Linked DNA regions of Homo sapiens. The protein of the gene in region 1 interacts with the protein of each later gene in a biochemical or structural test. Each region holds a gene or a part of one and is shown on either strand. Other genes may lie near its edges.

Region 1 (7,277 bases):
CCCCTGCCGCCGGGCTCTACGTGCCGCACCCACACCACAAGCAGGCCGGTCCCGCGGCCCACCAGCTGCATGTGCTGGGCTCCCGCAGCCAGGTGTTCGCCAGCGACAGCCCCCCGCAGAGCCTGCTCACTCCCTCGCGGAACAGCCTCAACGTGGACCTGTATGAATTGGGCAGCACCTCCGTCCAGCAGTGGCCGGCTGCCACCCTGGCCCGCCGGGACTCCCTGCAGAAGCCGGGCCTGGAGGCGCCGCCGCGCGCGCACGTGGCCTTCCGGCCTGACTGCCCAGTGCCCAGCAGGACCAACTCCTTCAACAGCCACCAGCCGCGGCCCGGTCCGCCTGGCAAGGCCGAGCCCTCCCTGCCCGCCCCCAACACCGTGACGGCTGTCACGGCCGCGCACATCTTGCACCCGGTGAAGAGCGTGCGTGTGCTGAGGCCGGAGCCGCAGACGGCTGTGGGGCCCTCGCACCCCGCCTGGGTGCCCGCGCCTGCCCCGGCCCCCGCCCCCGCCCCCGCCCCGGCTGCGGAGGGCTTGGACGCCAAGGAGGAGCATGCCCTGGCGCTGGGCGGCGCAGGCGCCTTCCCGCTGGACGTGGAGTACGGAGGCCCAGACCGGAGGTGCCCGCCTCCGCCCTACCCGAAGCACCTGCTGCTGCGCAGCAAGTCGGAGCAGTACGACCTGGACAGCCTGTGCGCAGGCATGGAGCAGAGCCTCCGTGCGGGCCCCAACGAGCCCGAGGGCGGCGACAAGAGCCGCAAAAGCGCCAAGGGGGACAAAGGCGGAAAGGATAAAAAGCAGATTCAGACCTCTCCCGTTCCCGTCCGCAAAAACAGCAGAGACGAAGAGAAGAGAGAGTCACGCATCAAGAGCTACTCGCCATACGCCTTTAAGTTCTTCATGGAGCAGCACGTGGAGAATGTCATCAAAACCTACCAGCAGAAGGTTAACCGGAGGCTGCAGCTGGAGCAAGAAATGGCCAAAGTAATTTCACACTTCATTTTTACTATTTGTTCCCGGCTCATCCCTCTACTGGCAATAGGAAGCACGCACAATCCCTTTTCTGTTTCGACTGTATACCCCTTATCATCAAAACGGCTAATGGGCGACAGTCTGGTTCTGGGGCCAACAACTTGGAGAAGTTGCAAATGGTGTGACCTCCCTTTCGCCTTTCCCCTTGACTCTTCTGAAGAATCAGAGATAGCTGTGCATAATGTAGCCAGCGTAATGTAGGTAATCTACAATTTACATTGTAGGTAAATTAGCAAATTAAGTTTTAGGGTATGTCCTCGCTTAACAAAATTCATCATGGATTAATAATAGAACATTTGAATGAGTAGAAACAAAGTTTAAGGTTTTGTAAATTGAGATTGTGGGATTTTGGAAGAAAAATGTATCTAGTAGTGATTCCATTTATTCTTTTAAGTGTTTAGTTAGTAACTAATGATTTAAATATACCTTAGTTGACACTGAAGTGCTGAAGAAGGTAATTATTGATGAAACTATTTAAATTAAAATGTAACAGATTTAAATCACACAAAGCCAATAATTCCAAAGCCTGAAAACCAGATTTGTGTTCTTTTCAGTGTCCCGTATTCACTGATTTTTTTACAGATATACTTTTCATTTGTGTTTTTTTTATTTTTATTTTTTATTTTTTAATTTATTTTTAGACGGAGTCTTGCTCTGTCACCCAGGCTGGAGCGCAATGGCGCGATCTTGGCTCGCTGCAACCTCTGCCTCCTGGGTTCAAGCGATTCTCCTGCCTCAGCTTCCCGAGTAGTTGGGGTTACAGGTGCCTACCACCACGCCTGGCCATTTTTTTGTGTTTTTAGTAGAGACGGGGGTTTCGCCATGTTGGTCAGACTGGTCTCGAACTCTTGACCTCAGGTGATCTGCCCACCTCGGCCTCCCCAAGTGCTGGAATTACACGTGTGAGCCACCACACCCAGCCGTTTATTTTTTATTTATACATAGTATTTGTAGATTTGTGGGGAACATGTGATATTTTGTTACATGCATAGGATATGTAATGATCAAGTCAAGGTATTTAGAGTATCCATTGCCTGGTGTATTTATCATTTCTGTGTTGGAAGCATTTCAAGACCTCTCTTCTAGCTATTTTGAAATATTGAATACATTTTTACTAACCATAGTCATACTAGTTAGAGTTTGTTCCTTCTATCCAGCTGTATGTTTGCACCAATTAACTTCTCATCTCCCCTCAACACACACACACCCTTTCCCACCTCTGGTAACTATCATTCTACTCTCTACCTCTATGAGATCAATTATTTTAGCTCCCACATATCAGTAACAGTGTGTGGTGTTCTAACCGAACTTCTGTTCCTGGCTTATTTCACTTAACATAATGACCTCCAGTTCCATTCATGTTGCTCCAAATGACAGGATTTCATTCTTTTTTATGGCTGAATAGTATCCCATGGTGTACACAGACCACATTTTCTTTATCTGTTCATCAGTTGATGGACACTTCAGTTGATTCCATGTTTTTACTGTTGTGAATAGTGCTGCAATAAACATGGGGTGCAGGTATCCCTTTGATATACTGATTTCCTTTCCTTTAGATAAATACCCAATAATGGGTTTGGTAGATTGTATGGTAGTTCTATTTTTAGTTTCTTTTTTTTCCTTTTTGATAATAGTCGTTCTAACTGGGGAGAGATTATATCTCATTGTGGTTTTCATTTGCATTTCCCTGATGGTTAATGAGCATCTTTCCATGCACCTCTTAGCCATTTGTGTATCTTCTTTTGACAAGTGTCTATTCAGGTCATTAGCTCACTTTTTTTTCTTTTTGAGACAGAGTTTCGCTCTTGTTGCCCAGGCTGGAGTGCAATGGCACGATCTCAGCTCACCACAACCTCCGCCTCCCGGGTTCAAGTGATTCTCCTGCCTCAGCCTACCGAGCAGCTGGGATTACAGGCATGCACCACCACGCCCAGCTAGTTTTATGTTTTTGTAGAGACAGGGTTTCACCATGTTGTTCAGGCTGGTCTCAAACTTCCGACCTCAGATGATCCACCTGTCTCAGCCTCCCAGGGTGCTGGGATTACAGGTGTGAGCCACCGCGCCTGGCCTTATTTTATTTATTTATTTTTTAATTAAGACGGAGTCTTGCTCTATTGCCCAGGCTGGAGTGCAGTGGTGAAATCTCGGCTCACTGCAACCTCTGCCTTCTGGATTCAAGCTATTCTCCTGCCTCAGCCTCCTGAGAGCTGGGACTACAGGTGTGCGACACCATGCTCAGCTAATTTTTGTATGTTTAGTAGAGACGGGGTTTCACCATGTTAGTCAGGCTGGTCTCAAACTCCTGACCTCAAGTAATCCGCCTGCCTCAGCCTCCCAAAGTGCTGGGATTACAGGCGTGAGCCACCATATCTGGCCTTTTGGCTTACTTTTTAATGGGATTATTTGATATTTTTTTTGCTGTTGAGTTGAGTTCCTTGTATATTCTGAATAATAGTCTTTTGTCAGATGAATAGTTTGTGAATATTTTCTCCTGTTCAACACAGGTATCCTCTTTACTCTGTTGTTTCCTTTGCTCTGCAGAAGCTTTTTAGCTTAATATAGTCCCATTTGTCTACTTTGGGGTTTTTTTGCCTGTGCTTTTGAGATTTTAGCCATAAAAATCTTTGCTCAAACCAATGTCCTGGAGTATATTTTCATAGCCTCTGGTCTTATTTCTAGGTCTTTAATCTGTTTTAAGTTGACATTCCTATATGGTGAGAGATTGGGGTCTAGTTTCATTCTTCTGCATATGGATATCTAGTTTTCCCAGCATGTCTCTTTTTCAGTGTACATTCTTGGCACCGTTGTCAAAAATCAGGTGGCTGTAAATACGTGGACTTATTTCTGGGTTCTCTATTCTGTTCCATTGGTCTATGTGTCTGTTTTTATACCAATACCATGCAGTTTCAGTTACTCTAGGCTTGTAACATATTTTGAAGTCAGGTAACAATTTTGTTCTTTTTGCCTAGGATTGCTTTGAGTATTTGGGCTCCCTGTGAATTTTAGTATTGTTTTTTCTAGTAATGTGAAAAATATCATTGGTATTTTGATAGGGATTGCATTTAATTGGTAGATTGATTTGGGTAGTATGGTCATTTTAACAATATTAAATCTTTCTGTCGGTGAACATGGGATCTCTTTTCATTTGTTTGTGTCCTCTTTAGTTTCTTTCTTCAGTGTTTTGTAGTTTTCTTTGTAGAGCTCTTTCACTTTTTGGTTAAATTTACTCCTAGATTTTTTTTATAGCTGTTGTAAATGGCATTCATTATTGGTGTACAGAAATCCAGATATCCATATGCAGAAGAATGAAACTAGACCCTATCTCTCACCATATACAAGTCTATCTAATGTATGCTACTGATTTTTGTATGCTGATTGTTGACTTTTCTTCCTGCTTTCCCATTTTCCCTGAGTTACTGAAAGATTAGATGGCTCTTGGAGTTCTAGGAATGCTGTGGTCCCCTTTTCCACAGATTTGTGTTAATAGAAGTTTCCCTTAGTTTTTAGAGCCAAAAGTATCCTAGAGAAAGAACTTTCTTTTTTATCTTAACTTTTCATTCCATATTCATGTCTATATATGGATATAAAAAAACAAAACTGGCCGGGCACAGTGGCTCAAGCCTGTAATCCCTGCACTTTGGGAGGCCAAGGTGGGCAGATCACCTGAGGTCAGGAGTTCAAGACCAGCCTGGCCAACATGATGAAACGCTGTTTCTACTAAAAATACAAAAATTAGCCAGGTGTCATGGTGGCGGGCACATGTAGTCCCAGCTACTCGGGAGGCTGAGACAGCAGAATCGCTGGAACCCAGGAGGCGGAGGCTGCAGTGAGCTGAGATTGTGCCACTGCACTCCAGCCTAGGCGACAGAGCGAGACTCTGTAGTATATGAGACCCATTCTTCTCTGTTCTCCTTTCTGTAAAATGAGCTAGGTTCCTCTCAGTTCCAGGGCATCCCCATCCCAGTCATTTGTTATCATGGGACTTCTCTAATGTGATTCTTCCTCCTTCCTTTTCCTTCTACACAGGCTGGACTCTGTGAAGCTGAGCAGGAGCAGATGCGGAAGATCCTCTACCAGAAAGAGTCTAATTACAACAGGTTAAAGAGGGCCAAGATGGACAAGTCTATGTTTGTCAAGATCAAAACCCTGGGGATCGGTGCCTTTGGAGAAGTGTGCCTTGCTTGTAAGGTGGACACTCACGCCCTGTACGCCATGAAGACCCTAAGGAAAAAGGATGTCCTGAACCGGAATCAGGTGGCCCACGTCAAGGCCGAGAGGGACATCCTGGCCGAGGCAGACAATGAGTGGGTGGTCAAACTCTACTACTCCTTCCAAGACAAAGACAGCCTGTACTTTGTGATGGACTACATCCCTGGTGGGGACATGATGAGCCTGCTGATCCGGATGGAGGTCTTCCCTGAGCACCTGGCCCGGTTCTACATCGCAGAGCTGACTTTGGCCATTGAGAGTGTCCACAAGATGGGCTTCATCCACCGAGACATCAAGCCTGATAACATTTTGATAGATCTGGATGGTCACATTAAACTCACAGATTTCGGCCTCTGCACTGGGTTCAGGTGGACTCACAATTCCAAATATTACCAGAAAGGTATTGTCTGAAGTGTGCCACATGCACTTTCTATGTGTAGATGTCACTAACCCCATTGCAAGCAACTAAATTTCCCATCCTAGTGGCTCCTAATCATTTTGAAATTTTTATCTGTCACTCCATTATTTTATAAATTGGTGTGACATCCTTCCCTTCCAAAAGGAATAGTGTGATATGCATTTTTTTTTAAGGTAGTGGATTTCAGGTTTACTTTTTTTTTTTTTTTTTTTTGAGACAGAGTTTCGCTCTTGTTGCCCAGGCTGGAGTGCAATGGCGTGATCTCGGCTCACTGCAACCTCTGCCTCCTGGGTTCAAGTGATTCTCCTGCCTCCAGCCTCCCGAGTAGCCGGGATTACAGTCACGCACCACCACCTCTGGCTAATTTTGTATTTTTAGTAGAGACGGGGTTTCTCCGTGTTGGTCAGGCTGGTCTCAAACTCCCAACCTCAGGTGATCCGCCTGCCTCCGCCTCCCAAAGTGCTGGGATTACAGGTGTGAGCCACCGTGCCTGGCCTACTATATTTTTAAGACAGTAGGCTACAAGGTGTCACGGGGCCTTTGTGGGGAACCATCACCTGCCTCATTAAAGCAAGCCTTAAAAAATAAAAGATTTGGCTGGGCATGGTGGCTCACGCCTGTAATCCTAGCACTTTGAAAGCCCAAGGTGGGCGGATCACCTGGGGTCAGGAGTTCGAGACCAGCCTGACCAACGTGGAGAAACCCCGTCTCTACTAAAAATAACAAAATTAGCCGGGCGTGGTGATGCATGCCAGTAATCCCAGCTACTGGGAGGCTGAGGCATGAGAATCGCTTGAACCCGGGAAGCAGAGGTTGCGGTGAGCTGAGATCGCGCCATTGCGCCCCAGCCTGGGCAACAAGAGCGAAACTCTGTCTCAAATAAAATAAAATAAATAAAAGAGTCACAGCCTCCCAAGGAGCCCTCTCTTATAGCCAACCTGCATCTATGTAGTGTATCATTGAACTCCATTTCCTATAGTTCTGCCATTTGGAAAAGCCAAAAACAGCTGATTATTATCTTCTTTATGGCTGAGATTCTTGAAGTAGTTATTTTAATATCATCACTTAGTCTTTTTTCTCTAACTCAAAACTAACTCTAAATCATTTAATTCATTCTCATTTTCTGGCATTGAAGTAACCTTTGTTCATGTTGTTTAAATCCTCCTAAGTTTTCCATGCTCATCTTAAAACATGTGTCAGGCAGTTGTTACCTTTTGATTATGGCCTAAGCGCTAGGAGTGCTGTCCCCGCAGTTCTTCCAGCCTCTCCTGCCTGCAGTGCCTTCCTGCCAGCTCAGCACGGTGCATGGTGTCCTGTGATTCTTCACCGTCATTTCTACCTTGGTGCTAGCGCCAACCTCACCACGTGTGTCTCCAAACTAGGAACAGCAGGCTGCCCCTATGGAGCAGCTCAGCGGGGATTCTCTGTCCTGATATGTCAGGAGCTGATTGGAATGACTTTGCTGTTTTAAGCTGTGGATCTGTTGAGTTATTGAAGAGTGAAAATTCACTTTATATTTTGTTCTTTTCTTTCACTATCCCTGATTCCTGGGTGAAGGGAGCCATGTCAGACAGGACAGCATGGAGCCCAGCGACCTCTGGGATGATGTGTCTAACTGT
Region 2 (7,311 bases), on another chromosome or scaffold:
AGCAGCCCAGGTTGTACCTTTTGCTTCCCTGTGACTACTTGTCTTGCTCTGCAGTGGAAACCGAACATGACCAGTGCAGGTTAATACCGCCACCTGGTGGGCAGTTTCAGTCATGAGCTTGAGTCTTCTGACCAAGGGAACACAAGTTCTATCACTATTGGGGAATTGGGTTCCTGATATAATAGCTATTGTTTATTGAATTACATGAGGAAAATTTTACTATTCCTATCTTACAGATGAGGAAATTAAGGCTTAAAGAGTTCCCGTGTCTCACCGGCAGCCTCTCTCTCACTATGTGACCAAGCAAAATACACAGCTTTGTAGCTGTTTCTTGGTCCTGTCAGCCAAGCTGTATTTTGAGGAAGGGGTGTGCATTTTGGATGGATTGAAAAGCAAAAATGGCTTTACATTTATTCAGTCTTATAACAAACATTGATCGCTTTACTAGGTGTCAGGTACTGTGCTATGGATACATTGTTGATAAGGTTGGATGCTGTTCAGAGATTTTTTTAGTTTAGTCAGGAAGCCAGGCAGTGGAGTAGGCAATGAAATGAACTGTGATAAGGGTGACCATGGTGGAGTGTAGTGCACTATGGCAATATACAGCAGGGGTAGCTAACCTACTCTTGCAGTCTGGAAAGGCTTCTTCTGAGAGGGTGTAATGTCTAAACTGGGGAAGAGTTAACCAGAAGGAAAGGGGAGGCTAAGAGAGTGTTCCAAACAGGGAACTGCAGGTACAAAAGTCCAGGGGCAAGAGAGAGTACAGACAAGGTCCAGTTCTACTGCAGACTTTTGGGGAAGGGATAATGCTAGAGGAGAGGCTGGAGAGTGAGACAGACCTCATAATACAGAGTACAGACTTCAACCCAAGGGCAGTGAGAAATCATTGAAAGTTTGTTTTAGCAGGGAAATAAAACGACAGGTTTTGCCTACAGGCAGTCCCCAACTCAACGATGGTTCGACTTAGGATTTTTCAACTTTACGATGGTGCGAAATGATTCAGTATGCTCCTCACCTTATGATGCAGTTATATCAGATAAACCCATTTTAAGCTGAAAATATGGTGAAGTTGAAGAAGCACTTCTGCCTTACGATATTTTCAATTTATAATGGATGGGTTTATTCAGACATAACTCCATTGTAAGTCGTAAAGCTTCTGTACTGAAAAAAATCACTTGACCTCAGGGTATAAGATGGATTGCAGGGAGCAAGCCTTGGCCAGGAGACTTTTGCATTGGTTTCGGAGAGGAAAGACGGTGACTTGACATATATAGTGGTGATGAGGGGAGGACAGATTTGGAAGATGTTTAGGAAGCAGAATTAATAGAACTTGGTGATTGATAGGACTTGGTTGGATTTGAGGTTAAGGGAGAAGGAGGACATAGGGTTGACGCTCAGATTTCTAGTTTAAGCAGCTAACAGGATTGTGCCATTTACTCAGAGAATGTTAGAGGAGCCAGTTTCATGAGGCAGAGAAGATGAGATCAGTTTAGGATATTGGGTGCTTCTGAGACAGCCATTGGAGATGCTAGTAGTTAGTTGAGTTTTTAATTCCAAGAAAGACTGGGCTGGAAATATGGATTAGGGAGTCACCTGCATATACAGATTATAATTAAAGTCTTGGGAACGAAGAGGGCCTTTGGAGATCCCAGCTCCAGTTTAGACTGTGGAGAGGCCACCTGAGGTCATGAGCACTATTGGAGCATGCCCTATTAGCATATGCGTCTTCTACTTCTTCCCCTTCACTCATCTCTGCTTCCAGTTATCCCTTGAAAACACAGGCTGTTCATCCCAGTTGTGCCCATTGCTACCACCAACTCTTGCATGGGCCTCCTTTAATGGCCTCCCAACATTTCATAAGATTTCCTCTCGCATCCTCACCCCAAAGGATCAAAGCTTCCAAATATTAGTAGTTGTGTGGATATTTTGGATGTAATTGGAAGGAAGAATCAAAGTTCTCCTTCCTCATCTGGACACAGGAAAGGAGGGAACACATTATGGTTAATTCTGAAGATGTTGCTCACAGCAGGTTCTAGATGCAATCCGATAGCTCCCCTCTGTTCCTAGTGCTTTCAGTCCTCCCTGCTTCCACTCTGGTAGGAAACTCTCCTCAGGATCAGAGAAAAGCCGTGGCCTTGACCAGGGAAACAGAGGCTGATTCTCAGGGGAGATGAGGTCAGGGAGACAATGCAACTAGGACGAAGAAGCCAAATAGTTTGGCACAAATTAATTTCCCAAAAGATATTAACCTCGTTTCTTTCCACATTCCCTAAGGCTACACTAAGATTATAAAAGGTGTTCAAAATGTTGAGATGAAAATAATATGCATGACTTGTTTGCATATAATTTTCATACTCATTTACTATCTAAATACAAAGGAGTCATTTTCCTTCTCCATTCTACTTCCTCCACCCCTTGCCCCTGATGTTTTAGTCTGGGCAAAAGTAGTTGGCTGGTTTTTAAAAAATTTTTTTGAGACGGAATCTCCCTCTATCGCCCAGGCCTGAGTGCAATGGCACAATCTCGGCTCTCTGCAACCTCCGCCTCCTGGGTTCACGCGATTCTTCTGCCTCAGCCTCCCAAGTAGCTGGGACTACAGGTGCACGCCACCACACCGGCTAATTTTTGTATTCTTAGTAGAGACGGGGTTTCACCATACTGGCCAGGCTGGTTGCAAACTCCTGACCTCGTGATCCCGCCGCCTCTGCCTTCCAAAGTGCTGGGATTACAGGCGTGAGCCACCGCTCCCGGCCGTTGGCTGGTATTTAATTAGGTATGTTTAGCTTCATCTAGGGTTTCTTTAAAAAAAATTATTATTTATTTTTGAGAATTTTTTTGAGACGGAGTCTTGCTCTGTCGCCCAGGCTGGAGTGCAGTGGCCGTGATATTGGCTCACTGCAACCTCTGTCTCCCGGGTTCAAGCGATTCTCCCGCCTCAGCCTCTCGAGTGGCTGGGACTATAGGCGTGCGCCACCACGCCTGGCTAATTTTTGTATTTTTAGTAGAGATAGGGCTTCACCATGTTGGCCAGGCTGGTCTGAACTCTTGACTTCAAGTGATCCGCCCGCCTCAGCCTCCCAAAGTGGTGGGATTACAGGCGTGAGCCACCGCGCCCGGCTGCTTCAGCCAGGGTTTCTTTTCCTTATTCTTGATCCTTTTAAAATAGTCAATATCAGCCTCTTTTCCATCCTGATCATTTTCATTTGCAATTTCCTCTACACGGCATTTCTTTTCTTCCTCTTAATACTTACTCTGTATCACCAGTCTTCTGTGGACCAAAACCAAAGGGAGAAGGTGTTCGCTAGCCCTAAAACCAGGCCTTCGATCTCCACAGTCACCTGAAATGAGAAAAATCTCATTTCCCAACACCAGGGGGTGTCTATCCCTCTAACTGTCCTACCCTTAAGGTAGAGATTAGTCCCAAACCTTTTCCTCACTCCTTTTCACTGCTTCTACATACACACTATATCTCTTTCCCTCCCTCTCAAAGTAGAGATTAGTCCCATTTTCCTGACTCCTTTTCACTGCTTTTACAAATCACAAAACTTTTGGGTCCAGAAGGTGGTGCCTTTTTATTGCAGTTTATCTGTTTGTCTCTCATTCTCTCTGGACAAGCTTGTCCTTTCCTTTGTCTGCGCACCCTTCGGTCTCTGCATCGTCCACACTCCTCTTTGCTCCTCAGCTCTCCCTTTCTTTCGCTACCTCTTCCCTCTTCCACCTCTCTCTGTGGGCTTCGTCGCCTTTCAGGGCTATCTTTACGTACACGTCTCTGAACCTCTTTATGCATTTGTCTTCTTTCTCTCTGTCTTCCTCTTTATGGCTCTCTCCTTGTCTCACCATTTCTGTACCAGTCTCTCTCCATCTCTCCCACAGTCCCCACGCTGGGAACAAAGTCACGGTGCTAGCGCAGAACATGCCTCCTGTCGTCCGGTCCCGGGACGCGACACATTCCACCATGCCCCTCCGCGCATTCCAACTGCAGACAAAGAGTCCCCGTCCCCTACCCCCACACTCTTTCCTATTCCAATTCTTCAGTGTTGTAGGGGCAGCTGCCCCAACTGCCCCTGCCCGCCTCTCACGTCCAGTCCGCGGGTCTCCACATCCAGGGCAGTTAGCGCCTTCCGCTGCACGCACACCAGCTATCCCTGCGCGGACACCCCCGGCGCTCTCGCACACACCGCGCTCCGCCCCCCTAGGAAAGTAGATCCGGCCAGGCAGACAAAAGTTTGGGAGAGAAGTTCGGTCTGTGGCTAGCGTGAGAGCTAGGGGGGCGGGGGCCGGGGAGAGTGGGGCAGTCGGGCGAGTCGACGCGTGAACAGATAGACCTGCGGACTGGACAGCCGCGGCCAGAGACCCTGCTAGCCCCGCTCAGCCCCAGATGCGCGGGGGGACGCAGCCCCTCCCGCTGGGGGATGCTGTGGGATTCCTGGCGCAGGGCATCCAGGCCGCCCGCTAAGCCCCTGTGCCTCCCCTGTGCCCCTGGGGAACCAGAGTCCGGCTGCAGGGAAAGAGAACCGGCCGCCGAGACGCCGCAGGGTGCCAGGCGGGGAGGGGGCGAGAGGCCCCAGGCCCGAGGGCATGGAGCGGTTAGGAGAGAAAGCCAGTCGCCTGCTGGAGAAGTTCGGCCGCAGAAAGGGTGAATCTAGCCGGTCTGGGTCTGACGGGACCCCCGGGCCGGGCAAGGGGCGCCTAAGTGGGTTGGGGGGACCTAGGAAGTCAGGGCCCCGAGGAGCTACTGGGGGACCTGGGGATGAGCCGTTGGAGCCGGCCCGGGAGCAAGGTTCCCTGGACGCTGAGCGAAATCAGCGCGGCTCCTTTGAGGCGCCGCGCTACGAAGGCTCTTTTCCCGCGGGGCCGCCGCCCACCCGGGCCTTGCCTCTACCTCAGTCGTTGCCCCCCGATTTTCGGCTGGAGCCCACGGCCCCGGCCCTCAGCCCCCGCTCTAGCTTCGCCAGTAGCTCGGCCAGCGACGCGAGCAAGCCGTCCAGCCCCCGGGGCAGCCTGCTGCTGGACGGGGCGGGGGCTGGCGGAGCTGGAGGTAGCCGGCCCTGCAGCAATCGCACCAGCGGCATCAGCATGGGCTACGACCAGCGCCACGGGAGCCCCTTGCCAGCGGGGCCGTGCCTGTTTGGCCCACCCCTGGCCGGAGCACCGGCAGGCTATTCTCCCGGAGGGGTCCCGTCCGCCTACCCGGAGCTCCACGCCGCCCTGGACCGATTGTACGCTCAGCGGCCCGCGGGGTTCGGCTGCCAGGAAAGCCGCCACTCGTATCCCCCGGCCCTGGGCAGCCCTGGAGCTCTAGCCGGGGCCGGAGTGGGAGCGGCGGGGCCCTTGGAGAGACGGGGGGCGCAACCCGGACGACACTCTGTGACCGGCTACGGGGACTGCGCCGTGGGCGCCCGGTACCAGGACGAGCTAACAGCTTTGCTTCGCCTGACGGTGGGCACCGGTGGGCGAGAAGCCGGAGCCCGCGGAGAACCCTCGGGGATTGAGCCGTCGGGTCTGGAGGAGCCACCAGGTCCTTTCGTTCCGGAGGCCGCCCGGGCCCGGATGCGGGAGCCAGAGGCCAGGGAGGACTACTTCGGTGAGTGAGAGAAGTGGTTAGGGACGGGAAGGGACCCGTCACGGTATTCGGTTCTCCACTGCCCCGACGGCCCAAAGTGCCGGTGCCCCGGGGTCCGAGGTGAAGACGCGGGACTAGGAAAGAAGCAAGAGGGATGGATGGGGGCGGCCCCAGAGCACTGTCCCCTTCCTGCTAGTTTTCAGATGAACCAGGGCTCCTTATTTCTGCTAAATTCAACCCCCCTGGTATCTCGTGAGTCCGTTTCTCAAGCATTTGAACCTCGGTTTTTTGCGGCAGGAGGCCTCGTAGGGAAGGGACCAAGTGGGGCAGTGAAGGCGCATCCCCCCCAACTTGCTCCCCCCTTTCACGGCGGTGCCCCTGGAGGTTTGTGCGCGCCGCGCCCCCACCCGGGCCCAGGCTCCGCCCGCAGGAATTCGGAGAATGCGCGGGTGGGGGGGCGGGGCAGGCTGGCCGCGTGCGTGCCGACTCCTGCCCGGGCGCTCCAGGTGCCCGCGGGCGGGGCGGCTGCCGCCGCGCGGCGGAGGGGTGGGGTTCGGGGATCGGGGGACGCTCCCTAGCATACGCGGAGTAGTGGCGGCTGTCGGGGAAATGGAGCCTGGGAGACAGGATGGAGCGCCCTGGGACCCAACTGCTGTCCCTCCCCAGTCCTGTTGGCTAGGTGCGTGCGTGGGCATTTAATCAGAGACCCAGTAGTACCAGCTTCTATTTTCCCCATCCTCCGGAAGTCAGGGTAAAAGTCATGACTACTGGGACACCATTACCTCTGGATGGATAACGACCCTGTGTTATTGCCAGAAATAACTTGGCCTTGAATTCTGCTTATAACCTCTCAGAATTCAGGCCAGAAGTAGCGCCTTACTTCCTGACACTGTTAAGGAAACCTGGTCGCTGTCTCCCTCCCCTACTCTGTTCAGGAAGTATTGATTGATTATATGTCTCAGCTATGAGGAACATTAGGGTCTTGAAAGATCTTTTAGTCAAAATTCACAGGCACTGCTACACACATAAAAAACTTCGAATCTGATTGTGATTGGAAAGAAGTGGCAGGCTTACCGCCTAAGGGCTGTGGGCCTCTTTCACTTTTCTAAGCATCTCTTCTTACCACTCATGCCCCACTCCTGGACCCCATGCTGTAGAACTCTATGGCTAGAAAAGTGAATAGGAAGAGGAACGCGGCCAGGGAGGGATGGTTGGGTAGGAGGTTCAGAGGTAGCAGGGCGGCAGGCTATAAGGGCATAACTCAACCCCCAGCCTCCACCCCCATTCTTTTCCCCACCTCCAAATCCACCGAGAGGAAAGCCCAGAGGAGATGATGCCAAACCGCTTTGATCAAGGAAGACTGAATGACAGGGCCCATTTAGCAGTTTCATTTTGAGGCCCAGGAGAGGTGGCTAGTAAAGAAGTCTTTTTGGCTGAACCATCAGAGCCAAAAGGAAGAAAGGAACTCAGAGAAACTGCAATAAAATGGCAGGAAGAACATAGGTATAGATATGCTGGGTTAGAGGAGGTGAGGCCAACGTGCCTGAGCAGTTTCGTTTGCTTTTCCCATAACGTCCAAGGTTTCCTAAAGAATGGCTCCGACAGGACCCCCTGGCATGGCAATCTTGGGGCAGATCTTCACTTCCATGAGGAAGCCACATTTTGAATTCAGAGATGGGGGCCCCTTCTCCTTGGGAGTCAGGTTGCCTCCTTTGACAGAACCCCTACATACCCCTTGTGCCGCTAGC
Region 3 (7,444 bases), on another chromosome or scaffold:
TCCTAGCTGCCGACTCATCCAGGCAGCCTGCACAACCCCTGGCTCCCCTCCACCGGCCACCTGCCCCCCTGCACAGGCAGGATCCGGCCTCGCCCACCCACAGGCCTGCACCTCCGGGCCCACGGCAGCAAGATTCCTATCTTGGGGATGCTTTCCTCCCTTTGCCGAGAGACCCACCCCCCCACACCTTGCCTCTCTTCAAGGAGCCGAAAATGCAGCTGCCGACTGATTTGCTGTGGAGCTAAAAATAACTGCCGGGCTCCAGCCAGGGCCCAGGAAAATATCCCATTGCTAGGAGACAACCGTTGCCGGGAGACCGCCATTGCTAGGCGACGCGTGTTGCTATGGTGATGGCTGGGCCCTGAGTCATCCTTAGCCTTGATAGGGGGCGAGCCAGGCAGGGAGCAGAGCTGGGGGGCATCAGAGAAATCCCACCGCCCATGGCACTCAGGGCACCCCTAATGGCTGTGAGGTTCTCATGCCTATGGGTGCCCATTCTGGCTGTGGAGGGGTCGGGACGGCCAAACATACCCACAGCCTGCTGCTTCACATGGATGATCCTGGGTGCTCTCGGGCTGTGCTCCAGGCAGGGGGCAGGGGCAGTGTGTGGGGGGATGGTGGCGTGGCCATCTGGCCCCCGGAGCAATCACTTTGCTCTCCAGTGTGGGGATATCACCACAGGTGCAGAGCTGAAGTGAATGTGGGTCCCCTTGCAGTCCTCCAAAGTCTCAGGGCAAGATGTACCAGCAGCCTCTGGTCCTCATCCCCATGGCTCCAGAGTGCCCTCCCAGCCACCTAGATGGGAGACTCCTCAGTGCTGAGGCATCAAGGCAAGGGGTGGTCCCGGTGAAGTATGCTCCTGGTAGGGGTTCTGCAGGAGAGGGGCTCTCCAGGTGAGGGGTGCTCCAGGTGAGGGGTGCTCCAGGTGAGGGGGTGCTCCAGATGAGGGTGCTCCGGGTAACAGGGTGCTCCAGGTAACAGGGTGCTCCAGGTGACGGTTCTCCAGGTGAGAAGGTGCTCCAGATGAGGGTTTTCCAGGTGAGGGTGCCCCGGGTAACAGGGTGCTCCAGGTGAGGGTTCTCTAGGTGAGAGGATGCTCCAACTGAGGGTGCTTCAGGTGAGGGGTGCTCCAGGAAAGGAGTGCTCTGGATGAGGGTTCTCCAGGTGAGGGGTGCTCCAGGTGCCCTCCGGAGCCAAGGCACATACCGCCTCCCATATCAGTCTCCAGGACCAATGGAGGGGTGCGGGCCTGAGCGGTATCCACATCCCCCAGAGGAGATCGAAGTCTGCTGAGCAGCCCCCTTTGTCCAAGCCACTTCCCTCTGGGGTGTGAGCTGTTCTCCAAAGGTATCCTCTACAAGGGCCTCCCGCCACAGGAGGCGATCCAAACTGCTGGTGCCAGTCACCTTTCATGCTGCTGACGCATCGCTGTCTCCCTCATTCGCCAAATTTGCCATGCACCTGTGACGTACTGAGATGGAGGCTCAGTGCCCAGGGACAGGGTGGTGGGGAAGAAGACCGCACCCTGGCCCTCAGCAGGCACAGTCAGCCAATAGCTCATCAAATGCACCATCAGACACCAGGCAGACACAGGCTGAGAAAAGAAGGTCCTTGGTGCTGGGGAGGTGAGGACACGGGTCTGTGGCCCTGTCCTCCTGAGGGAGGGCACCTAGGGGAGAATACATTAGCCAAGGTCTGAAAGGCAAGTAGTCACCCAGGTACAGGTGGCAAGGGAGTGCTCCAGGCAAGGGGCCAGGAGAGGAGTGCTCCAGGCGAGAGGTGCTCTAAGGGAGGGGTGCTCCACATGAGGAAATGCTCCAGGAAGGGGTGCTCCAGGGGAGGGGTGCTGCAGGGGAGCTCCAGGTGAAGGGAGGGGTGCTCCAGGTGAGGGGTGCCCCAGGTGAAGGGTGCTCCAGGTGAAGGGAGGGGCACACCAGGTTAGGGATGGGGCACTCTCCTGGCCCCAGAAGAAGGCCAGTGTGGCTGAAGCTTCATCCTCAAGGGGCCAGGTATAGAGCGAGGCTGTGGGCCAGCCGTGCCAGGCACTCAGGGCTGTGCAGTCTTCAGCAAAGAATGAACAGGGCCCTGGGAAGAACAGGACCATGTCTGCACGGCAAAATGGCCCCGCTGCACCCTGGGGAGAAAAGGAGATGGGAGAGGGGTGGAGAGACCAATGGGGAAGTAGCTGCCACCAGCCATGGTGGAGACAGACAAAGTTGCCCGGCACAGGTGGGGTCACAGAGGTGGAGGGTAGGTGGGTCACAGCTGGTGACAGAGGTGGAGGGTAGGTGGGTCACAGCTGGTGACAGAGGTGGAGGGTAGGTGGGTCACAGCTGGTGACAGAGGTGGAGGGTAGGTGGGTCACAGCTGGTGACAGAGGTGGAGGGTAGGTGGGTCACAGCTGGTGACAGAGGTGGAGGGTAGGTGGGTCACAGCTGGTGACAGAGGTGGGGGGTAGGTGGGTCACAGCTGGTCACAGAGGTGGAGGGCAGGTGGGTCACCGCTTTGGAGGAGCACGGTTGGCCTTTCTGTGATGATCTTCCACACACTCTTCCCTGCTCAGATTCCCCACAGGCAGGGCTAGCTTCTTGGGCCTCGCCAGGGTTGCATGACCCAAATGCCTGACTCCCACGCTCACCCTATGCACTTGGGGTGTGTCCAGCCCACCCTATGCACTTGGGGTGTGTCCAGCCTGCCCTGTGCGCTTGGGGTGTGTCCGGCTCCAGCCCCAGCTGGGACTCAACACAAGCACAGCTTGTTCTCTGCCTGAGGCCCTGGCACCTGCTGTGGTGAGAGCCCCAGGCACGAGGTGAAACCCTCCTACCGGGAGCAGTCCACGCCTGGGGTGGAAGCTGCTGCCAGAGGGCCAGCCTGCCAGACCATGCACCGGAGACACCCAGATAGGTTGGACCGCCGCTCCCCTGTTGCCCCAACTGTCTTCACGGGGCTCGTCCTGTCTGCCCCACTCCGGGCACCTTCTTTGGTCAGTATCCAGGTACCGGGCAAGACTTACGCAGAAGAGCTGCTGCGCTCACCCCAGGTAGACCCAGTGGCGCCCCCACAGCAAGCACAGAACCACCCCACCCCGGGACCCAGCCAGGGTGCCGTCAGTCTGACCCTCCTTCCCGCTGACCCCAGGCCTCACACCGGCCCCTTCGGCCAGGCTTCCCATCAGGACGCTGGGAACAGCAGCTGGTTTCACTCCTATTGAGATACTCTCAGGAGCCCCATTCAGCCCTGTAGCTCTTTCCCGGTGCAAAGAACCCCTCTGCTCTCCCCACACCTGCTCCCTCCCCCGGCCCTGCTCCCAGGAGACCCCAGGATAGGGCGCCATTGGCCTCCATTCTCCTGCCCTGAGCCTGCTGGGGCGTCTGGGGTCTCCAGCGGTCCCCACCGAGTCCTCCACCTAACCTAGCACGCCCCACCCCTGCCCCGGGCTGCAGCAGCCGCCGCCGCCTCCAGCCTCCAGTTTATTCCCGAGGGAACTTGCCAGGCTCCTCGGATCTTTGCACCCCCATTCCCGAGCCATCCCTCCCTCGCGCCGTGGGGGGGTCTCAGCTCCAGTGGGGCACCCTCAGGAAGCCCCCGCCAGAAGTCACCACCGCAAGCCCTCGGGTGCTTTCACTGTCACTGTCTGAACTGATCCGTGCAGTCACTTGTTTTCGCGCTCTGCGGGTGTGCCAGGGTCTCCAATGAGGGGCTTCCGGCCGGGCACGCAGCAGGTGCGCGGGGGGTGTGAGGGCTGTGAAGGGTCCTTGCCGTGGGCTGGGCGGGAGGGTCCAGAGACGGGGGTCTGACCACCCTGTCTCCTCTGGGCCGGGTCTCGCCTTCCTCGCCTCCCCAAGTGGTGGCCAAGGGCCGGGACGCGCGGTGCCGCCCCGGTCCCCATAGGACCCCGGACCCCTGGGCCACCCGCCGGCGCCTGCTCTCCCGCCTCCCCTCGCCCTCCCTTCTGCCTCCCGCGCCCTCCCCGCCCGCCGCGCGCCGGGGTTTGTTATTGTGCGGGTGCCCGCGGCGAGCGGGGCGGGGGCGCGTGCCGGGCCTGGCGCGTGCTCGTGGACGCCGTGCCGGGAGCGCGCCGCGCGCGGGGGCCGGGGCGGGGCGGGGGCGGGGCTCGGCATTCTCGGCGCCCCCGCCCGGGCTCGCGAACCCGGATTGGCTCGCCACGCCGGGAGCGCGCGAGGGCGCGGCGTTTGGTGCCGGGCGGGGGGCGCGCGCGGCGCCGGCGGCGGCCACGGAGGAGCGCGGGGAGGGCGAGGGGAGGAGGAGGCGCCCGCCTGGTTCCCTGCAAAGCGGCCTTATTTATCTGGGCACAGCCTCAGCCTCCCCGGTGGGAGGCTTGGGGCGGCCGATCCTCTCCCACCGGGGAGCTCCTTTCCGTGCGCTGCCGAGGGGGCCCGGCCAGGACGGGACGCGGGGCGCAGGGCGCGGCCGGGCCCTGCCGGCCAGTCCAGCACCCCGGCGGCCCCCGCGCGCCGACGCCCATGCCGGGCTCCCCATGACGGGAGGTCGCCCGGCGGACAGCGTGGCATGAGCCAGGAGCCCGGGCCGAGGTAAGGTGCGCGTGCGGCCGGGCTGCGGGGCCGGGAGGGGGCCAGGCCGCACCTCCGCGGCGGCCACAATGAGGAGGGGGCGGGGTGGGGGTGGGGGCCGCGCCGCCGCCGCCCGGGAAGGGCTTACGTAACGGCAGCCCCTTCCCCACCTCCCCCGCGGCCGCTGGGCCTCGGTCCCTGCCTGGCCTTCCCGCAGCCCCGCGCCCCGGCCCCTGGCCCGGAAGAGGGCCGCTCCCCACTGGCCACTCGGCCGGGGCTGGGGGTCCGTGCCTCCTGGGACGCCGAAAGGAGGAATTGTAGGCCCCCGGCCTCCACCCCGGGCGCCTGGTCGGCTCAGAGGGCGCCCCCGGACCGAAGTGACAGGCCAGAGACCGTTAAACTGCATGGGGGTCGCGTGGATGTGCGGCCTGAGGGGCGGCCCTCCCCGGGCGGGCGGCTTCTGGACCCGGGGCCTGCGCTGAGCTACTGCCCGCGGGAGGAGGAGGGTGGGGGGAGGCTGGCACCTTCCTGGTTCTGGAGGCGGGACCGGGCCTTGGCCAAGGTTGGAGGGCCTCAGAAGGGAAACGGCACCTTCAGACCTGCTCGGGAGGGGTCCGGTGTCCTCCTGGGGATTAGGTGGGTGGAGAGCGTTCCCCACCCATCACCTCAGGAGAGAGGGCTGCGGTGGCAGCTTCAGGAACTGACGGCCCAGCGGCCACTCCAGGCCCTTCCCAGGCTCCAGGCTCTGTTCGGGCAGCCTGCCCTCCGCAGGAGGAGCAGATGGCGGAGGCCACCTCACCTGCCTCTTCCTTCAGGCCCTTCCCCCACACCCGTGCATCCGAGGGCCCAATGGCCAGGGGCAGCTCAGGCCTCCCTGGACACAGGGCCGTCTCCCAGCCCACCCCCTCTGTGGGGTGCTGGACAGCAGCCTTGGAGCAGATAGGCCTGGGTCAGGCCAGGAGACTGAAGGGTTTTCTGTCTCCCGGACCAGGGCAGAGGCCTAGTGGAACCTGGCTGGTCTGGCCAGAGGTGGACACAGGGCTGGACCTGGAGCCGCCTGGAGGGGAGGGAAATTCAAGGCCCAGCTGCAAACATCGCTGTGTGGGGGAACCCTAGGACTCACTTGCCCCACTCCCTGCCCCCTGCCACCCCAACTGCCCCTCATCTGGGGCCAGACCCTTGAGTTCAGCCCCTCCATCGACAGACTCACTGCCTCCAGCTCACACCCACTTCCGGGGCGGCTGGACGAGTCCTACCTCCCACTGATGAGAAGGACACAAACAGCTTCCTGTGTGGGAGGCACGGGGCCCTTGAACCAGCTGGACATGGACCCAGGAAGCCTTGTGTTGCTGAGAGTTAGGGATCTCCCACCCAGGTGGCACTGTTCAGCCACCCGAAGACCCCATCTCCTTGCATGTGGGCACCCACTGCTGTGCCTCCCATGACTGGATTGGCAGTGAAGGGAGCTCTGTGGGTGAGCAGGTGACTGAGCCTTCCCCACCAGTGGTGCAGGAGGAGTCAACGGCCAAACTGGCTGCAATGTGTGGGTTCAGGCCTCATTCCTTCACTGGGCAGGAAAGAGGGGTGATGGTTAGTGGCAGCTGCCTGGAGCAGTAGGCACTAGGGGCCCAGGCCTCGCCTCTGAGGGTGCTCATGCTCTTCCGAGCAGGGGCTGAGATGAGGCCTGGATCCCAGCACCCACTCCCCAGGGTGTCCAGCTTTCAAGGCTGAGCTGCCCTGGGCTTGACCATGGGCCCTCAGTCTGCTGGGGCAGCAACACGGGTTTCTCTTGAGGCCACGTGCCTGCTGCGCCATGGTGCCCCTCCTCAGAGCCCCTGGTGCACCCCCAGAAGCATCTCAAACTGGGGGCGGGAGAGGAGCTCTGCCGCTGTGCCACGTGCCAAGTGGCAGGGACGCGGGTGTGCCTGCGTCACGGGGCTGCCACGGAATGTGTCAGTCTGCACCCTGTCCCCAATCCCCAGCCACCCCAGCTGTCAGCCAGGCTCTGGGGCTGCCACTGCAGATGGAGCCCGATGTGCATTTCTCTGGCCACCAGGGCCCTGCCCAGCTCTAAGGCCCTCTGCAGGCAGGGCTCAATGGTCCCTGAGGTTCTATGAGGGCTGAGTGGTTGGTTAGGCTGTGCCCCAGTCTGGTGCTGACAGAGATGGGGGCACCAGAGATGGGGGAAGAGACCTTCAAACTGGGGGCGCTGAGGGGTGAGGAGGTTTCCCAGGCATGTGTCCAAAAGGATGTCCCAGGGGTGGGCACGCGGTGTGCAGCCTCTGCAAGGAATGCAGCGCCGTGGCAGGGACCCTGCAGGATGAGGGCAGTACTTGGAGAGACCACTAGCCCAGGGCCCAGCAGGAAGGCATCGAGACCCCATGAGGCAGAACAGGGCAGAGCGAGGACCCTGTGAGGTACACCTGGCAGGACCCAGGTAGAGGGAATCAGCCAGCCCCGGGGCTTTTGGAGCCAATCCTAGCTCTATGTAACTTCTGGAAAATCCGTCTGCAAGCTCTGCTTCCCCACTCCTAGTTAGGCAGTGTGTGAAGGAAGGACTCTGGCCGGTCAGAGGAGGGGTGCGTGTGGTGCCAGGGAGAGCGGGGCAGGAGGACCCCCTTCCCTCTCTTGGCTCAGGCCAGATGGTGGAGGACGGGCAGCCACTTCCTCAGCCCTGCAGCTCCTGAAGAGAGAGCCAGCTGAAAAGGAGATGGGCCCTCCTCATCCGAAGGCTCTGTGTATTGCAAGGCCCACCCCAGCCCTGGGGTCTTGGGAGCCCTCTCAGTGACTCAGGTACCAACCTAGTCCCAACCCCAGAGGCCACTCTCCCCGCGGACACTGGCCATGGCACGATCCGGGTTAATTTCCCGAGCTGTGCCTTCCCCGCTGACCGGCCTCTTCCTAAATTTGAC
Region 4 (7,655 bases), on another chromosome or scaffold:
CTGGTACATGCAACACATTGATGAATATCAAAGCATTATGCTGAGTGAAAGAAAAGACATTCTGGAAAAGGCAAAAGTATAGGGAAGAAAATCAGAAAAGTCGTTGCCAAGGCCTGGGAGTAGGGGCAGCCCAGAGAATTTTCCACTGTGATGGAAATATACGTTTGATTGTGGTTACAGCACACTATATATTTGTCAAATACACATAACGATACAACTAAAAAGGGTCCATTTTACTGTATGTAAATTATACCTAAAATACTTGACTTTAGAAAGAAAAAAGCCCCTCAGTTCTCTTCTCCCCACCCTCCTACGCGCACTCCTGATCTGGATCTCTAATTCTATGGTAAAATGCAAATCTTTTAATGGCTATAGGTAGCCCTTTGCTATTTTTGAATAGAAAAATGATGTAATTATTTGGTAGTTTTAAGGAAATTAATAAGCCAGAGAACTTTAATACAGAAGTGAGGGAGGAAGAAGAAACTGGCCTGAAGAGAAGCTGGAGGTGGTGCGATGTAACTGGGTCCTCAACTGGAGCGTTCTTTGAAGGGATGATTCATTCATCCCTTCAAGCCATGTATGGGGCACCTGCACTGCTAGGCACTGGGCATGCAACGATGCCATCTAGTGAGGCTGTGGGGATAAGCCAGTAGAGGAGACAGGAATGAACAGTGACTGCCAATTGGAATGTGAGTGCTGAAACAAGTCAACAGGTGCAGTGAGTGGGAAAGGGCAGTTTTGGGGGCGTGGGGGCTGTACCACGGGGCCCAGTATCCACAGCAGGGTAGCTGGCAGATCTGCAGAGAACTGAAGGCAAGGCATTGTCAGAGGAAAGGAGGGAGGAGAGCGTGACAGCACAGAGAATGGCGTGTGAGCCCAGCGTGTTCAGGGCACTGCAGTTCAACATGACTAGAGGGGACAGGGGGCAGTGATGGGTGATGAGCCCCAGAGGAAGCGTCTCAGGGCCCTGTGGTGGGTCTCCAACAATGGGGAACCACTGCAGAGTTTCATATAGGTATGTGACATAATCAGATCCATGATTTAGAGATGAGCAAAATGGAAACTGAATTGGAAAGTGGCAGCAGAGAGGCCTGTTAGGAGACTGCTGTCTTTATCAGACAAGAGAAGATGGTGGCTGAGGAGACAGAGAAAAGTGGAGCAGTTTGGAGGTTTGGCTACTTAGTAGGTAGAACTGTTAAGATTTAGTGATTGAATATTGAGACAGAAGAAGAGAGAAAAGCTAACAATGTTGCTTTAGACTCTGGCTTGGTGGATGCCATCCACTGAGAGGGAGCAAGTTTGGGAGAAGAGATTAGAATGTGTTAGATGTGAGATGCTTGTGGGATATCGAAGTGGAGAATCCAGAAGACAGCTGGATATATGGCTCTGGAGCTCAGAAGAGCAAACATGAATGGGATGTGAAGCCATATGAGTGCTTGAGAGTGCCTAGGGAAAAGGCACACCTAGTGACCAGCTCTAAACCCTGAGCCCCAACATTTAAGGGAGAAAAAAAGAACTCACAAAGGAGACTGAGAAAGAAGGGCTAGACAGCTAGGAGAAAAAATAAAGGCATGGGAAGAAAGGAATGGGCAACATTTTTTAGTGTTGTTAAGAAGCCAAGTAAGACAAAAGTCAAATAGATTTAGCATCAAGGAAGTGGTAATTTTGGTGACAAGAGTTCCAATGGAGTCTGAGGTAGAAGCTAAACTGAAGAGCAACTAGGATATAAGTAGTCAGCAACCAAGCCCAATTCCTAAATGATAAAAATTCCAAACTCTAGGCCAGGTGCGGTGGCTCACACTTGTAATCCTAGCACTTTGGGAGGCTGAGGCAGGTGGATCACTTGAGGTCAGAAGTTCAAGACCAGCCTGGCTGAGGCAGGAGAATTGCTTGAACCCCGGAGGCGGAAGCTGCAGTGAGCCGAGATTGCGCCACTGCACTCCAGCCTGCGTGACAGACTCCGTCTCAAAAAACAAAACAAAACAAACAAACCAACAAAATACCAAACTCTAGCTTGACAACAAAGTCCTAATCATTCAAAGACTTCAACATAGGAAGCAAAGCAATAAAAGCACTAGGAAACAAAAAATGAGAAATAAAATAAAAAACTCAGAATGGATGTATTTTTCCAGTATGACACAAAACAGAAGCCATAAAAGAAAAGACGGATTAATCTGTCTACCTGAAATTTTTTCCAAGCTGTCACAAAACATATACAAATAAAAATAACCAAAATGTGAAAAATAAAAGTATTTAAACTCGTATTTTGGATGAGGACCAATTTTTTTTTAATATAAGAACTTTCACAGATCATTAAGAAAAACGAACAACCAATAGAACAAAGAGGCAAAGAATATGAACACAGTTGATAGAGAAGGAATCAAAAGGGCTCTAAAATATATGAATAGACAACATTTATCTGAAAATAAATGAAAAATTTAACTACATGTTTTTTCTCACCAATTGATATGAGATATCAATAGATTGGTAGCTACTGAAAAGTTTGATAACACTTTGAGAATTGTGGAGAAATAGGCACTCTCATACAGGCTGGTGGGAGTGTACATTTGGACAGCTTTTATGGAGAATGATTTGCAATATCTGTGAAATGTTACACATATGTATACTCTTTGACTCAGCAATTCTGTTTCTAGAAATGTTTCCTACATATTTACCTGCATTGTATAAATTTCCACATTCATTCACTATAGCTGTATCTGTAATAGGAAAAGTTGGAACCATCCTAATGTGCAATGTAGGGGTGGAAAAGGTGTGATACTTTTCTTTACCCATCTTAAGGGTCACAGCTGACACTACCATAACAAAAAACAGGTTAGCAAGATAAATGGATAACTTATTGAATCACAGTTTTATGGGATGTAAGTGCCTTCAGAAATGAAGACCCAAAGACCCAGGGAAAGCTGTCCATTTTTATGCTTAGATGAGATGAAGAATGGACAGCTGTGTAGAAATGTGATTGTACAAAAGGAGTATGATCTAATAGTAACAGACTGAAGGAGGAATCCAGCAAGTCCTGTCTGTTCAGATTCTTCTTGGCCTCTCTGTGCAGCTTTCCTTCTTCCTGAGTGTAGGGCAAGACCCTTTTGGAACGAGGGTCTTATGACAAGGTACATCAAAGAATGTCTTTATGGCCAGCTCTTACACAAAAAGGTGGGGGAAGGCTAGATTAATATTTCTAGGTTTTTCTAGAATAATGTTTCTGGCTTGCTTGGGAGAAAAGGGGTTCTAGTTTCCATGACCCGCCTTGGGGAACAGAAATTCTGGTTTCTATTATTTGCTTTAGGAGACACAGAGGGGTGGGAGACAAGAGGGCAGGAGAAAGTCAGAGACAGACTTTGCTTTTAAGGCTTCTCTGAGGCACTTTCAGTCTTCTTTAGTTCAAAGCACTCAGTGTGCCAAAGAGCCATACTCTGGGGTGTCGTTTCCTGAGCACCAACAATATTGGCCAAGGACATTGTGACTATCCTTACCAGTGCTGTGGTCCTTTAGGAAGTTGAGAAGGGGCTAGAGTTCCATGAGAGCCCAGGTGTAGATGTGTATTTGGTAGTCATCGGCTTAGGGTCAAAGACAGAAGTGATATAGAATCAGTTCATCTAAGGCAAGAGTAGGTTCAAAAGGTTGCCCCTTAAGGGTAAGGACCAAATTTTATTCATCTCCGTAAGGCCAGGATCAAACACAATCAAGATTTGATAAAACAGGCCGGGCGCAGTGGCTCACGCCTGTAATCCCAGCACTTTGGGAGGCCAAGGTAGGCAGATCACCTTAAGTCAGGAGTTCTAGACCACCCTGGCCAATATGGTGAAACCTCATCTCTACTAAAAATACAAAAATTAGCTGGGCGTGGTGGTGCGCGCCTGTAATCCCAGCTACTCGGGAGGCTGAGGCAAGAGAATTGCTTGAACCTAGGAGGTGGAGGTTGCAGTGAGCTGAAGACTGCAGTCCAGGCTGGGCGACAGAGCAACTCCACCTCAAAAAATAAAAAAGGAAAAAAAAAAGATTTGATAAAATAATGTACATATAGGACAGAGCTGGAGGGAAACCCAGGAAAGGTGAATCAGAGAGAGAAAAGACGCCAAGATAATGTGGTGACTTGGGAGCCAGAGAGACGGAGCCTGAGACTTGGAGCAGGGCACAGCACAGGAATACAACACTTTTCACCAGAACGACATTCCGACCTCTGAATCAACCCTGGAAAGGCCCTTCCATTGAACTTCTTGTGATGGAGGAAAAGAAACCCTCAGTTTCGTCATCGCAAGGCGGAAGAGTTTAAATACCATACCTCAAGATCTCCCTCCAGCCCTGACACGCGACTCCGCGGCCCTTTCAGCGTCGGTCGCCTAGGAGACAAGCGCCACTTCCGGCAGCGAAGTCACTTCCGCGGAGGTCCTGCCTCTCCCTGCGGACGGGCGCTGATTGGCCCGTTTGAAATGCGCCAGGCGGGAGCTCACCTGGGCTCTTAGCGTCGCCGCCGGCTTCGCAGAGCACCGCGCCTTAGCCGCGAAGTTCTAGTTCTTGCTGCCGGTCCTAACGTCCCGCAGTCTTCGCCAGCCAGCCGTCCCGCATGCGCGTTTGGGCGGCGTGGAGCCTGCTGCCATGAAGTCAGCGTGAGTACGAGGCCGCCGAGCAGGGAGAGAGGGCGGACGGGGGCCGAGGCCTCGGGGCTGGGGGCAGGCGTCTCCACTCAGGCCGCGGCCGTACGCGGGCAGCGCGGACAGCATCCCGCCCGGTGCTGCTGCGGCCGCGACCCCAAAGTGGGAACCTCCACGTGTGGCCGCTCCGCGGGAGCCTGGGCGCGGAGACCCCTGCCGCGTCGCCCCCCGCCGCCCCGCCTGGGCCTCCAAGGGGCCAGGAAGGGTCGGCCCGGAGCCGGGGTTGTTTTACGCCGCACCCGGTTCCCGGGGGCGGGGCAGTCCTCCTCGGGGTCCCGGGACAGCCTTTCCCTTCTCCCTCGCTGGCTGCCGCCGCCTCCAGAGTGCAGTTGGCCAACTTAGTGCGGGTCGGAGGTGGTCTCGTGTGTGGAGCAGAGCGAGTGTGCTGGGCATTGGTTAGATGGGCTCCGTTTCTGGAGAGCCCTGGCACCGGTGATCGCCGCTAGCTTTTTTTTCAGCCGAGCACCCTGTCCTTGAGGCCGAGCCCATCCGCTTACACAGGCCAGTTACTTCTGCTGTATTTTGTGGCCGCAGAGAACCTCCGCCCACATTCCTAAGCTAATATTTTCGGCGCAGCATCATTCCTGGGTAAAGAAATATTTGTCGTGCAAAGGAGAGGATTGGCTTTATTACCATTTAGGGAGTCGTTTGCAAAAGACAACTTGTTTATTAAGAGGCCGAAGTCAAAATCTTTAGATGAAAAAAATTATATATAAGAAATATACGTTGAGTTTAACTTAAGCCCACCACAAAGTATTTTGCACTGAATAACACGAATTTGCTTGTGTTTCATCTGAGAATATGTTTGGAAAAATATTTTTAAACTACAGTCGAAGCCAATAATCTTACTTAATTTTAATGTGTTAAATGTATATCTAGCCTATAGATAAATGTGAAGGGAAAAAGATGAGATGCTAGAGAAATGGTGAAATCAATCAAAATAACTTTTTGATTGCCCCTACTTAAGAAACCAAGAAATTGGCAGTTTGGGACCAGATTTTGTTTGGAGACAAAGAGTAATGTTTTGAGCATTCAATGACTGGTTGTTCCTTGAAAGTACAGGCGTAACCCTTGACGAAAGAATGGTTTCCTCCATGTGCATTTTTATAGTGTATTGAAGTTAATCGCTTGTCAGTCTGTAAAGTGTGGGCAGTTATAATTTGTAGTGCCTCTGTTAAATTGTTGCTCAAGAAAATATGCAAGCCATTTTAAGTATAGAACTAATCAGAGAATAAGTAGGTAGCTTTGGTACCAAAAATGTATTCTAAAGCAAATTTTAATTACTTTTGGATTACGCATGCCACAAACACTCTGCTACTATGATTATTAATGTTATTTGGGATGCAGTGTTTTGCAACTGCTAAGGGATAATTTACAGATAACCTAGAAAGATTGTATAAGTTTTAGGTGAGGCTTTTGTATTCGTGTTGAACTGAAAAAAAAGTTATTATTATTTTTTAATCTATGACCAGGAGAGCTAAGACACCCCGGAAACCTACCGTGAAAAAAGGGTCCCAAACGAACCTTAAAGACCCAGTTGGGGTAAGGTATCCCTGTAAATTTATGTGTGGTGTTTAAGAAACTTATCTCTTCAGTCCTTTCTGTCTTATGTGTATGCTTGGAAGGGAAAGAAGAAGACATGTGGAAGTATAATCAAAGAACATTTAGTTAAATGGATGTACTACATTGTGTAAAACTAGTGCTAGCTGTGAAATTTTCTCTATAAGATTAATTAAATTAGTCCAGTAAAATGAAGTCTTTGGTTGTCAACTGCATACCTTCTGTAATTATAATTTGGAGAGTTAGATAATTAAAAATCTCCAACTGGGTTCATATTCATCCCAGAGAATATGAACTGAGTTCATGCCATACAGTAACTGATGGCATGAGGAGAGTTCCAAACTTCTTGGGACCAAGTTTAATTCAGTTAAATTATGAAGAAAAAATGAAGCAGGCAAAAAGAATAAGAATTTTAAAACAAAACAACAAATGGCAAACAAAAAGGGTTCTTTGCTCTGAGGTATTTTAAATCTATCCCTCGTTGCCACTGGAGTGGGTCCCTGGCTCTGAGTTAAGGGAACCGGGTGCTTTGCACACAGCTGAATGAGTTTTCCTCAAGCCCCCTCCCCTGCTTTCAAAAATGTCTCTGTAGGCTGGGTGCGGTGGCTCACATCTGTAATCCCAGCACTTTGGGAGGCTGAGGCGGGTGGATCACCTGAGGTCAGGAGTTCGAGACCAGCCTGGCCAACATGGCGAAACCCTGTCTCTACTAAAATTACAAAAATTAGCTGGGTGTGGTGGTGGGTGCCTGTAATCCCAGCTACTCGGGAGGCTGAGGCAGGAGAATTGCTTGAACCCAGGAGGTTGCAGTGAGCTGAGATCATGCCATTGCACTCCAGCCTGGGTGACAAGAGAGAAACTCTGTCTCTAAATAAATAAATAAATAAAAATGTCTTTGTATATTAAATGTTGGGTTAAGCTGACAAGTTTTTAAATTGACATCCATTTCCAAGAAATTCTAACAGTTTTAAAAATCTCGTGTGACATGTTGTTGACTTTTAGAGATATTAGTAGTAGTATAACTATTATTTGTGTACAATATAATAGTGAATACACTGCAATTTGATTTTTATTAAAATTTATTTTAATTTTGTGTGTATTTAAAGTATTCTCATATCTAATACATACTTGTATTTGTCAATCTCAAGTAGCAGATTTTAATTTTCTTAGCCCTTGGAGATACAGAGCTCTTAAATTGAGAGACTGAATGTTTGTTGAATGAATGAATGAATGAGAAGCTTAAGTGAAAAATCAGGCAAAAGGTCGAACTTTCTTCTTAAAGCACCTTCCTATTTCTTCAGGTATACTGTAGGGTGCGCCCACTGGGCTTTCCTGATCAAGAGTGTTGCATAGAAGTGATCAATAATACAACTGTTCAGCTTCATACTCCTGAGGGCTACAGACTCAACCGAAATGGAGACTATA

Evidence for each region.
Region 2: of the proteins of LATS2 (region 1) and AJUBA, one has a biochemical effect on the other in vitro, tested with the Homo sapiens proteins (one study listed by BioGRID).
Region 3: of the proteins of LATS2 (region 1) and FBXL16, one has a biochemical effect on the other in vitro, tested with the Homo sapiens proteins (one study listed by BioGRID).
Region 4: of the proteins of LATS2 (region 1) and KIF23, one has a biochemical effect on the other in vitro, tested with the Homo sapiens proteins (one study listed by BioGRID).

What each region holds. Positions count from the first base shown.
Region 1 is NC_000013.11:20,981,587-20,988,863, reverse strand, and holds part of LATS2 (serine/threonine-protein kinase LATS2), read left to right. Parts: coding exon 1-983; intron 984-5,057; coding exon 5,058-5,640; intron 5,641-7,215; coding exon 7,216-7,277. UniProt on the Homo sapiens protein: Negative regulator of YAP1 in the Hippo signaling pathway that plays a pivotal role in organ size control and tumor suppression by restricting proliferation and promoting apoptosis.
Region 2 is NC_000014.9:22,979,534-22,986,844, reverse strand, and holds the start of AJUBA (LIM domain-containing protein ajuba), read left to right. Parts: upstream 1-4,293; 5' UTR 4,294-4,578; coding exon 4,579-5,584; intron 5,585-7,311.
Region 3 is NC_000016.10:702,621-710,064, reverse strand, and holds the start of FBXL16 (F-box/LRR-repeat protein 16), read left to right. Parts: upstream 1-4,263; 5' UTR 4,264-4,553; exon of another isoform or gene 4,554-4,558; intron 4,559-7,444. UniProt on the Homo sapiens protein: Substrate-recognition component of the SCF (SKP1-CUL1-F-box protein)-type E3 ubiquitin ligase complex.
Region 4 is NC_000015.10:69,409,852-69,417,506, forward strand, and holds the start of KIF23 (kinesin-like protein KIF23), read left to right. Parts: upstream 1-4,497; 5' UTR 4,498-4,614; coding exon 4,615-4,625; exon of another isoform or gene 4,626-5,258; intron 5,259-6,142; coding exon 6,143-6,212; intron 6,213-7,531; coding exon 7,532-7,655.